2 separate regions of the Homo sapiens genome follow, and region 1 is linked to region 2. Evidence: fine-mapped expression QTL. A gene starts in region 2. The other region holds a variant in brackets. All regions are shown on one strand. Distances are from middle to middle.

Region 1 (4,391 bases), 230 kb before region 2:
AGGAATGAGCCACCATGCTTGGCCCCCAGTTCGTTTGTTTTGTTTTTGTTTTTGTTTTTTCACTCAGTTACCTCATTTTGACCTTGTCTTGTTGCTGCTGTTGCCTTTTGATTTTTTTATAACCAAAAAAGCTTCATTTTTTAAATTTAGCTTTCTTACTTTCTTGTGCCTTCAACACCTTTGAAACAATTTTCTCCTTCTTGATAAGGAAAGCACCTTTCAACTTGTCACAGGCACATTTGGCACACATGGGACACCTTAGGCCCTGCTGACATGTTTTTTCATACTGGCCAATCATAAGAACTTTAGGTCTCACAGCAGAAATCCCTCAAAGTCGGCCTGGGCACACACCACATGCAGATTTTGGTGCTTTTCCATCCTTCTTGGTGTAAAGGTAAACAATTCTATTACTAGGGGTTCAGTACAGCAGAGTTCTGTTAGAGGCTGTTGTAGGAAGCCTAAGACAATATGTCAAACACTGACATTCTGAGCGCTTCCAGACAGCATCCCTGGAAGAGCTGACCTTGTTTTCTTGAGATGTCTTTTCTTTAAAGCAGAGTGCAGTAATATTTCTATTGATTCATTACTGTATTATATTAGTAAAAGTGTTATGTGCAGAATATTTTCTGCTACAGGTGGCAGAAATGGCTGAGACATCTGTTAGAATGTGAGAAAATTATCCATCAATCAAAAGCTACTAGAGGAAATAGCTATTTAAGCATGGAAGCCCTTTATAGAGTTTTATAAGAATTCAGGCACATACAATCTTATTCTGCATTAAAAAAAATCCACTCAGGTAATTAATTTTTGCCCTCTCAGAGGTGTGGTATTGAGAAGGCAATATGTCAGCTGGAATATGTGCAAAGGTGGGACCGGTATCTATCATTTCCTCTTTCATTTCTATGAATCATTTCTATGATACCATTTCTATGAATTTCTATGAATCCTTTTGTTACCAGTGGCAAGTATCCGAGTTACTGGCAGTGAATCTGTATGGGTCTGAAGCAACCTCAATACTTGCCTCCTGAGAAGAAAGAATTCAACTGAGGGGCATAAGGCAGAAGGAGAGACTGAGGCAAGTCTTAGAGCAGGAGTAAAAGTTTATTTAAAAGCTTTACGGCCAGGCGAGGTGGCTCACACCTGTAATCCCAGCACTTTGGGAGGCCAAGGCAGGTGGATCACCTGAGGTCAGGAGTTCGAGACCAGCTTGGCCAACATCGTGAAAACCCTTCTCTACTAAAAATACAAAAATTAGCTGGGCTTGGTGGCACGTGCCTGTAATTCCAGCTACTCGGGAGGTAGAGACAGGAGAATTGCTTGAACCAAGCAGGCGGAGGTTGTGGTGAGCTGAGATCATGCCACTGCACTCCAGCTTGGGTGACAGAGTGAGACTCTGTCTCAAAAATAAAATAAAATAAAATAAAAAAGCTTTACAAAAGAAATGAAAGGAAAAAAGCACACTTGGAAGAGGGCCAAGTGGGCAATCTGCAACACAAGTGCACACTTGTTTTTCATGGTGCATGGTTTGACCTTTGAATTGGGGTTTTTACATGCTGGCATACTTTGGGGGTTTTGTGTTCCTTCTCCCTTAATTCTTCTCTTGGGGTGAGCTGTCCACATGTGCAATGGCCTGCTAGCACTTGGGAGAGGAACATGCACAATGTGTTTATTGGAATTGTACGCATGCTCACTTGGGGCATTCTTCCCTTACCAATCTAGCATTCCTAGAGGAAGGTTATATACCAGTTAAACTCCATCATGGCATGCTCGAGCTCACTCACCCAACTCCTGAGATCTTATTGGGAAGCTACTGATCACCAGTTTCAGGTTTTTTCTATCTATAGGGAGACTGCCTTTCCCTGGCACTGGCTGCAACCAATTATTATTTTAGAGATACAGTTAACAACCACCTGACCCTCATCTGATGGTCGCCTGAGCTTCCTAGTTGGGTTTGGCGGGGAGCCCTCTCCC[G/A]CTCTGCTCATGTCTTACTAGCTACCTACTATAGCATTTCCCCCCTCAAGAGTCCAAGACCCCAGTTATTTGGAGAAAATGGATGAAGGTGAGCCTTCTGTAATGGCTTCCTGCTGACAGAGGTTGGGGGGTTGTAGGTGGTTCTGTGAGTCTTGGCCTCTTGCTAGTTGTCAGAGCAGGAGGCTGTTTCCATGGATTGGGGAAACTGGTATCCAGCCAGGTCCAAGGGAGAGAGGGGCAGGATTTTGCCTCTGTTGTGTCTCACTGATGGGCAGTCTAGGGGGTCCCCCATAGAAGGGTAACTCTTGAATATTGAGAGGACACTATCCCTCACTGAGGTTCATCTGGAGCTCAATGGCCTAAAGGCTAGAGGAGACAAATCAGGTTATTAGAATTAGAGGAATGTTAAAACAAAATAATGGGGTGAGGACAGCCCCAAAAAAGAACCCTGAGGCTGCCTACACACCCAGGTAACTGGTGGCTATAGTCATGCCTACTAAGACTTGGGTACATGGGGTTGATAGCAGATTCCAATATGTGCTCAGAATTAGAATACTGATCCAGATTTTTACATTACCCATCCCTTTTGTTTCTTCTGAGCTGCAGCCAGAGATCACTGGCTGGTTCACAGGAATAAGCAGGATTACTCTAAAATGCAGGCAAAAACTTAAAAATAACTGATGAGACTAGCATCTATTAATAGAAAAATAACAGGTGTATCATAATTTTTGAAACACACTTTTTCTCTTTCCAGTCCTCATTTTTATAAAAAATCATGATAAAACTGATTTGTTTGCAAAATAAACTTTAGTTGTCTTATACTTGGCCTGATTATTTGCATAAAGCACAGCAAGAATAATTATTTGCCTAATAGGCTCCTGTTTAAATTGGCTTTGATGGAACTTCATTCCATAAGGAATCTCAGACAAGACTTTTTTTAAGGCTTAAACCCAGCCACAGTTTTATACCATCAAATACCTGAATGAGTTGGTAAATTCCTCTCCCTTGAGGTCCCAAGATAACCTGGGGCTCCTGAGCCTGTTAGAAAGTGGCATTCTTTACAGACCACAGGTTGGGAACCCTGTACAGGGACTGTGTAGACAAGGTATGAAGCCAGTTTTCACAAGGGGCTTTTATTGGCTATATAAGTCAAATTTGATTCCTTAAAGGAATGCATATCATTCCAGTCAAAGCCTTCGTAAAATAACCAGCTTCTCCAGTTGTGTTCTGTTGCAAAAGACAACAGATTCTTATTGTACTTATGCAAATAACTATACTGCCATAAGTTAAGAATACTCACAAGTAGTTTCCAAATTTTGAAGAAAGCAGGTAGAGAGAAACAAATATGCTCGAATTTTGTTTACAGGAGTACTCAATTATTAAAAGCTGTAAATAGCTCAAAAGAAAAGTTTTCTTGGTTTTGGAAAACAAAGGATTAGCAACATTTTAAGCAAAAAGTCATAAAAGGATTATTTCAATCTTCTATTAGTTTAGTCCATGCAGTTAACTTTTGTTCTGCTTGATATTCATGAACATTTTAGCTCTCCAATAAGAGTCCTGAAAGTTTTTTCTCTATTCTAATGTCTCAATCTTCAAAGTTATCAGAAGCCTGTATTTAGGAGCACCTGTTAGAGTTCTATAGCTGATTATAAAACCACCTTTTAAAGAGGGTTAAAACAAGACAACAATTATCTGTTAATGACAAAAAGTCTTAGGGTAGCCACAATCAAAGACACAATTGACAAAGAAATTTATTACCCCTGAGGCACAAAACAATTAAACATAATTATAATTATTCCTAATAATGTATACTATGTTACATTAGAATTATAGGAGTTTCACATAATTTTGGAACATGTACTGATAACACTTTAATCAAAAGCAGATTAATACTTTAATAAAACTATGTTGTGCTTTAATTCCAGTGTTTATGAATAAACTGAATAAAAGTCCTTTAATTTTGGGTAATTTTCACACATAGAATTTCTTTTATAGGATTAATTTTTCACAAACCTTCCACAACTTGCTCAAACCTTCAGCTTTATCCTATCTAACATAAAACAATCCTTTAACCCTCCAAACTAGGCAAAACTTACATTCCCATACCTTCTTACAATCTTTTAACAAAAGCACATTCTACTTTCCTTGCGTACCTTACATGTAAGACTGCTTTTCCAGTAGTCTCAAGAACATGTTACATGGCTAACTGTTCACAACTTTTACTTTTGCGAAAAACCTGATAAGTAAGCGATTCACTAGACAGAAGTGCATATAAGGTCTCTTTCCAGCATACCTGGGGGAATGGCTAACTCTGTAAGTCCCCAGGCCATGCCTAGCTTTAAAATAGTCAAGTTGTACAGTTAAAAGTCAAAGTGGCAGTCTATAAAGCATTTATTTAGTAGGTCTAAAAACCTTTAAAA
Region 2 (4,391 bases):
GAGATCTCCTGACAGGAGGGTTGCAAAGATCTGTGGGAGAAGCATGGTTTCCGGGGTCGCTCATTCACTTACCACTTCCCTGGGCAGGGGAAGATCCCCTGGTTCCCTGTTGCTCCCAGGTGGGCTGTTGTCCTGTCTTGCTTTTCCTTGTTCTCTGTGGGTCAGGTTGTTTCCTTGATTAATCCCAATGCGAGTACCCGGATGTTTCAGTTGAAGGTGTTGTATCTACTCGTCCCTTCTGTTCCTCTCCGTGAGAGCCATGTACATTACCTGCTTCTGGTCAGCCATCTTGGCCACTCCCCATCCTTATGAAAGTTTACACTGTATTACAATTGCACAGGAAAGTTACTGCAGGTTTGGGAGTGGGACAGAGGATAGAGGATGTTGGCTTGTTTTGTCAAGAGAGTGACATTCTTAAGTCTATGTTGGTGGTGGGGACAGATAGGAGGCAAGAAAATCAGTTAGGAAATTATTGAAACAATTCAGCCCCAGATAATCGAAGCTTATCAAGAGCAGCAGTGTGAGAATGCAGAGAAGTGGACAGTTGCCAGAAACATCTCAGAGGTAAACATGGCAGGCCTGGAAGATGAAAACCTTCAGTGCCTGGCAACTGAGGGGTTGGAAATACTCCAATCTCAGAAAAGAGAATACTGGGATTGGAGGTGGGGGCCAAGCTGGGAGAAAGATTTCAATGTCTTGCAGAATATAGAGAGGGGTTGATGAGAATAACAGCCGAAGAGCCCAGGGGAATTCCCAGGTTAAAAAAAAAAAGCCCCACAGAGATCAGAAGGGCAAATCCTCAATCTAGAGCCACAGAAGTGAAGATTTGGCTCTAGACTCTGAAGTCAGCTCTCCTACGGAAAAAAGATGGACCCAGGCCTTTTTAACTCAGGCAGCCCCCATGGAGGAGAGAGATGGTCCTCCTCAGTTTCTGCACGTTCCAAATGAAAGGGTCCTTCTGTGTAGAATGAGAGATCTGGAGAGTCCTGGGTAAAATCTCAGACATAATTCTTTCTTCTGAGAAACCAGCTTTTTGCTTACTGCCTTGAGGAAAACCTTGTCTATCTTTCTTTCTTCCTCTTGTTTTCCCCCTCAGTAGAATCCTGTGAAAAGAAGTCTTTGGGTATCACAATGTGTAAAACAGTTAAGAATGTAGCCACTGTCTTGTCACAGTGGGGTCTGCGGACCTGGCCTCTCTCTTCCCGTCCTCTACAACCAAAGATTTCCTCTGCGCAGTTGTAAAAATGTGGAATGTCCTAATGCACATAAATAGGTCTGAGATTTTAAAATAAATGAAACAAATATAATATGGAAAGTCTAAGTGGATTCCCAAGACCATTTCCAGGTCTCCCCTCTATGTTTCTCCTTGAGGGTGTCTTAAACACAACATCTCACACATATTTTTAAGCGGAAGACAGTGGGCTGGGTGCGAACATCTTGTTTGTGGCCTCCTGTAAGCATTCTTGGAAAAAGAAACGTACTTGTCTTTCTGATTATAAAATAAGCAAAAGCTCAACGTAAAGAATTTGGCAACTCCAGAGAGTATAAAATAAGAAAACTAATTGGTAACTCCGACGCCACTCCAGAAATAAAAATGAGCATTCGCGGAGAATCCTTCCAGTCTCCTTACCGAGGCCGGCTAGGGACCTGAATCTGAAGCTCCTCGCCCCGGGGCCAGCTCCTGCGGCAGCCGCTGGCTCGAGGCCCGGGAAGGGGCGCTGAGGGGAAGGCGCCCCCCAGGGAAGGTCTCTGAGGAGACGGCCGGAGGCGGGGCCGCCCCAGGGGACTCGGCGGCGACGCAAGGAGAAAGATCCGAGGAGCTGGAGGAGCCGTGAGGCGCGTGGAGTCTGCAAGGTCCCGGAGCCCTCCCGGCCCTCGCGGGAGAGCAGGGTCGAGGCGCGCCACGCGGGCGGCGCCAGGGAGGGGCGGGCAGGCGTGGCTCAGCCAGTGCCCCGGCCAGAGGCGCCCGGCGCCCCGCGCACACCTCAGAGGCCTGCGCCGCCGTCCCGCCGCCTCCACGCCAGGCTCCCGGCGCGGCGATGGGCGCGGGCCCCTGTCTCTGCCCCGGCCCGCCCCTTCCCGCCCCTTCCAGCCCCGCGAACGCGCGAGACGCCGGGGGACCGTGGGCGTCCTGCACATAGCAGCGGGCTTGGCGCTTCTCGGCGGTCCGACGCTGATGAGGTGAGCACAGCGACCTTAAGGATCCACAAAACTTCAAACACTTAATTATTAAGTGAAAGTGGAAAGGGGGAGGGGCTTTCTCTCCCTTTCCAGAATCTGGGCAGTTTGTTTGGAACCGGTAAAGAAACTCTCATAGGAACTTGAGGTGAGCAGGGGTCACGCATCAGGGATGCGAGTGGCAATTTCAGTGGAAGAGACGGGAGAGTACTGTAATTTGGTGTGAAGATGGGGCCGTGGGTTTTCTGCTGAATAAGCGACCGGCTGTGCTGAAAATGAGAGATCCCGAAACAGTTTCCCACCGCCTGTAGACTTTCCAGAGTCTCCTCACGCCGAATCTGCTTTGCAGGGCATGTTCACCCCCAGGGTGTAGAGTGGCGGGCACGATGGGCTCCCCCATGGAGATTGCAAAGTCCTGAAAAGGGACAATTGTATTGCACTGCGTCTGTTGAACTGCCTTGCTTCTGGGCATGAGGGAGTCACCTGGAAGCTGCAACATCCTTGTACCCTGGCAAGCAGCCCTTTCCAAGTTAGCTCTGTCAGAAACTAGAGGCCTCTAGGTAGAACTCAAGGTATCCATGTACTCGTGAAGAATACAAACCTTGAGGTTTTTAAAATCGAATTTTGTTAAGATTTCAGGATAGAAATCTGGGAAGAGAAGTCATGGCATGGCATAACTTACCCCTTTGTTAGTTTTCTAGGTACATGCATGCTTGAATTAGAGGTAAATGATGCCCTAGCCTATCATAAAATGTCTTTCCTGGTGTAGTTCTTTAAACCAGAATATGGAGGATAACATTACATTTTTGCATCCTAGATAAAAGGGAAAGATTTTCAGATGGGGCTTACACAGCGGGAGAAATTGTTGATATAGTTGTATTAGGCAGCAAGGCCTGCAAAGAAAAACTTCTTTTTCTCCACCAGTGGCTGAATTCTGCACAGAATGTCTCCTCGCAGTCTGGGTAGCAGCCCGGCTTGCAAAAACAGTGCTTCTTTCATTGCTGCAGGTGGGGCAAATGCGCTTGCGGATAAATGGCTGGGGAAGCGTTTGCTTACAGGTTAAGGCAATTTGAGTCTGGAGAATAAAGTGCTTTAGCAGGCTGTGCTTGAGTTAGGTGTCCCTTGTGAGGAATAGAGGTGGCTTTCTGGTCCCCATTTTGCCAGCCTAATTCCCCTTCAGGGACACTACTGTCTCTGGAATGTTCCCTCTGTTTCCCCTTCTCTTCCACCCCCAGCTTTTAGCTTCTCCCCATTCCCCAGTAAAGTCTAGAATTGAGCCTGGTCAGAGTCAAAGTTCTGATAGCCTAGGGATATAGAACTTCAAGCCTGGTGAAGGCAGAAATGAGACCTAGGAGAGACCCAAGATGGGTGAGATGAAACAACTTTCAGCCTAGAAGGCTCTCAAAAGAGTGGAAAAATAATGATTGAGGGAAACAGATTCTCTGGAAAGGAGAATAGGTGCTTAAGTGTTTGTTTTCAGCTGAGGGTTTTAATATTTCCATTTTTGTTGTTTAACCATAAGGGAATTTCCATTATAGGGTAGGAGGAGGATGAGGCCTTCTCTGAAAACTGCATCCTTCTCCTTGAATTTGCATTTTATTCCATTCTTATGTAGGTTTCAGAGATTAATTGGGGGAAGGGGGAGAGAGGAAAGAAGCCAGAGGCTCTGACATGCTGCAGAAACAGTGCAACGTGGACTGACTTGGGCTGCAAAGGTGGATTTGGGGGTTGAAAGAAATGTTCTACATTTAGTTGAAAAAAAAAAATCAGAGCCTTTATTTTGCAAAGGTCTTGAGAATCAGAACATTCATGTTTAGTTGCTGATGAATTTTGCCTGATAAAGGATGCAAATCACTATCTCACCTTTTTTTCTCCAGTACTTTATTATGAAAAATTTTAGACATACAGAGATGTTTTCTACCTCTCATTTTATAAACTTATTATCTTAAAACAAACTTGTTAATAAAAATCAGTGTTTAGAATCCAGACATATGTGATCTGGTCCTGGACAGAGCTTGAATCAGAAGGTGTTTCAAATATAGATGTGTGAAGGATATTAACATTTTAAGAAAAAAATATGGATCTTATTCTTCTGACTTTCCCATAAGAATCTTGAGCAGACCCCTTAACTGCCTTCTTTTTCCCATTCTTAAAATGTCAGTCAGTTGGATGATATTACTCTCCTGCTTAACACCCTCCAATGGCTTCCCCTC

What was found. PIP is the estimated chance that this variant, and not a neighbour inherited with it, causes the effect. A credible set is the group of variants that fine-mapping cannot tell apart.
Region 1: its variant is the best candidate, but not a certain one, in a credible set for the expression of GPR156 in gastroesophageal junction (GTEx, PIP 0.52).

What each region holds. Positions count from the first base shown.
Region 1 is chr3:120,508,944-120,513,334 of GRCh38, reverse strand. LOC107986121 (a long non-coding RNA gene) reads right to left here. Exons shown (of 3, transcript XR_001740868.2): 3 at 1,983-2,337. It also overlaps the pseudogene RPL34P9. Among named protein-coding and RNA genes, the nearest start is that of FSTL1, 60 kb to the right of the region's middle. The variant G/A (reference allele first, on the strand shown) is at 1,972.
Region 2 is chr3:120,282,819-120,287,209 of GRCh38, reverse strand. It overlaps GPR156 (G protein-coupled receptor 156), which reads left to right and starts at 1,988. Exons shown (of 10, transcript NM_153002.3): 1 at 1,988-2,181. LOC124909418 (a long non-coding RNA gene) reads right to left here and starts at 2,054. Exons shown (of 2, transcript XR_007096029.1): 1 at 73-2,054.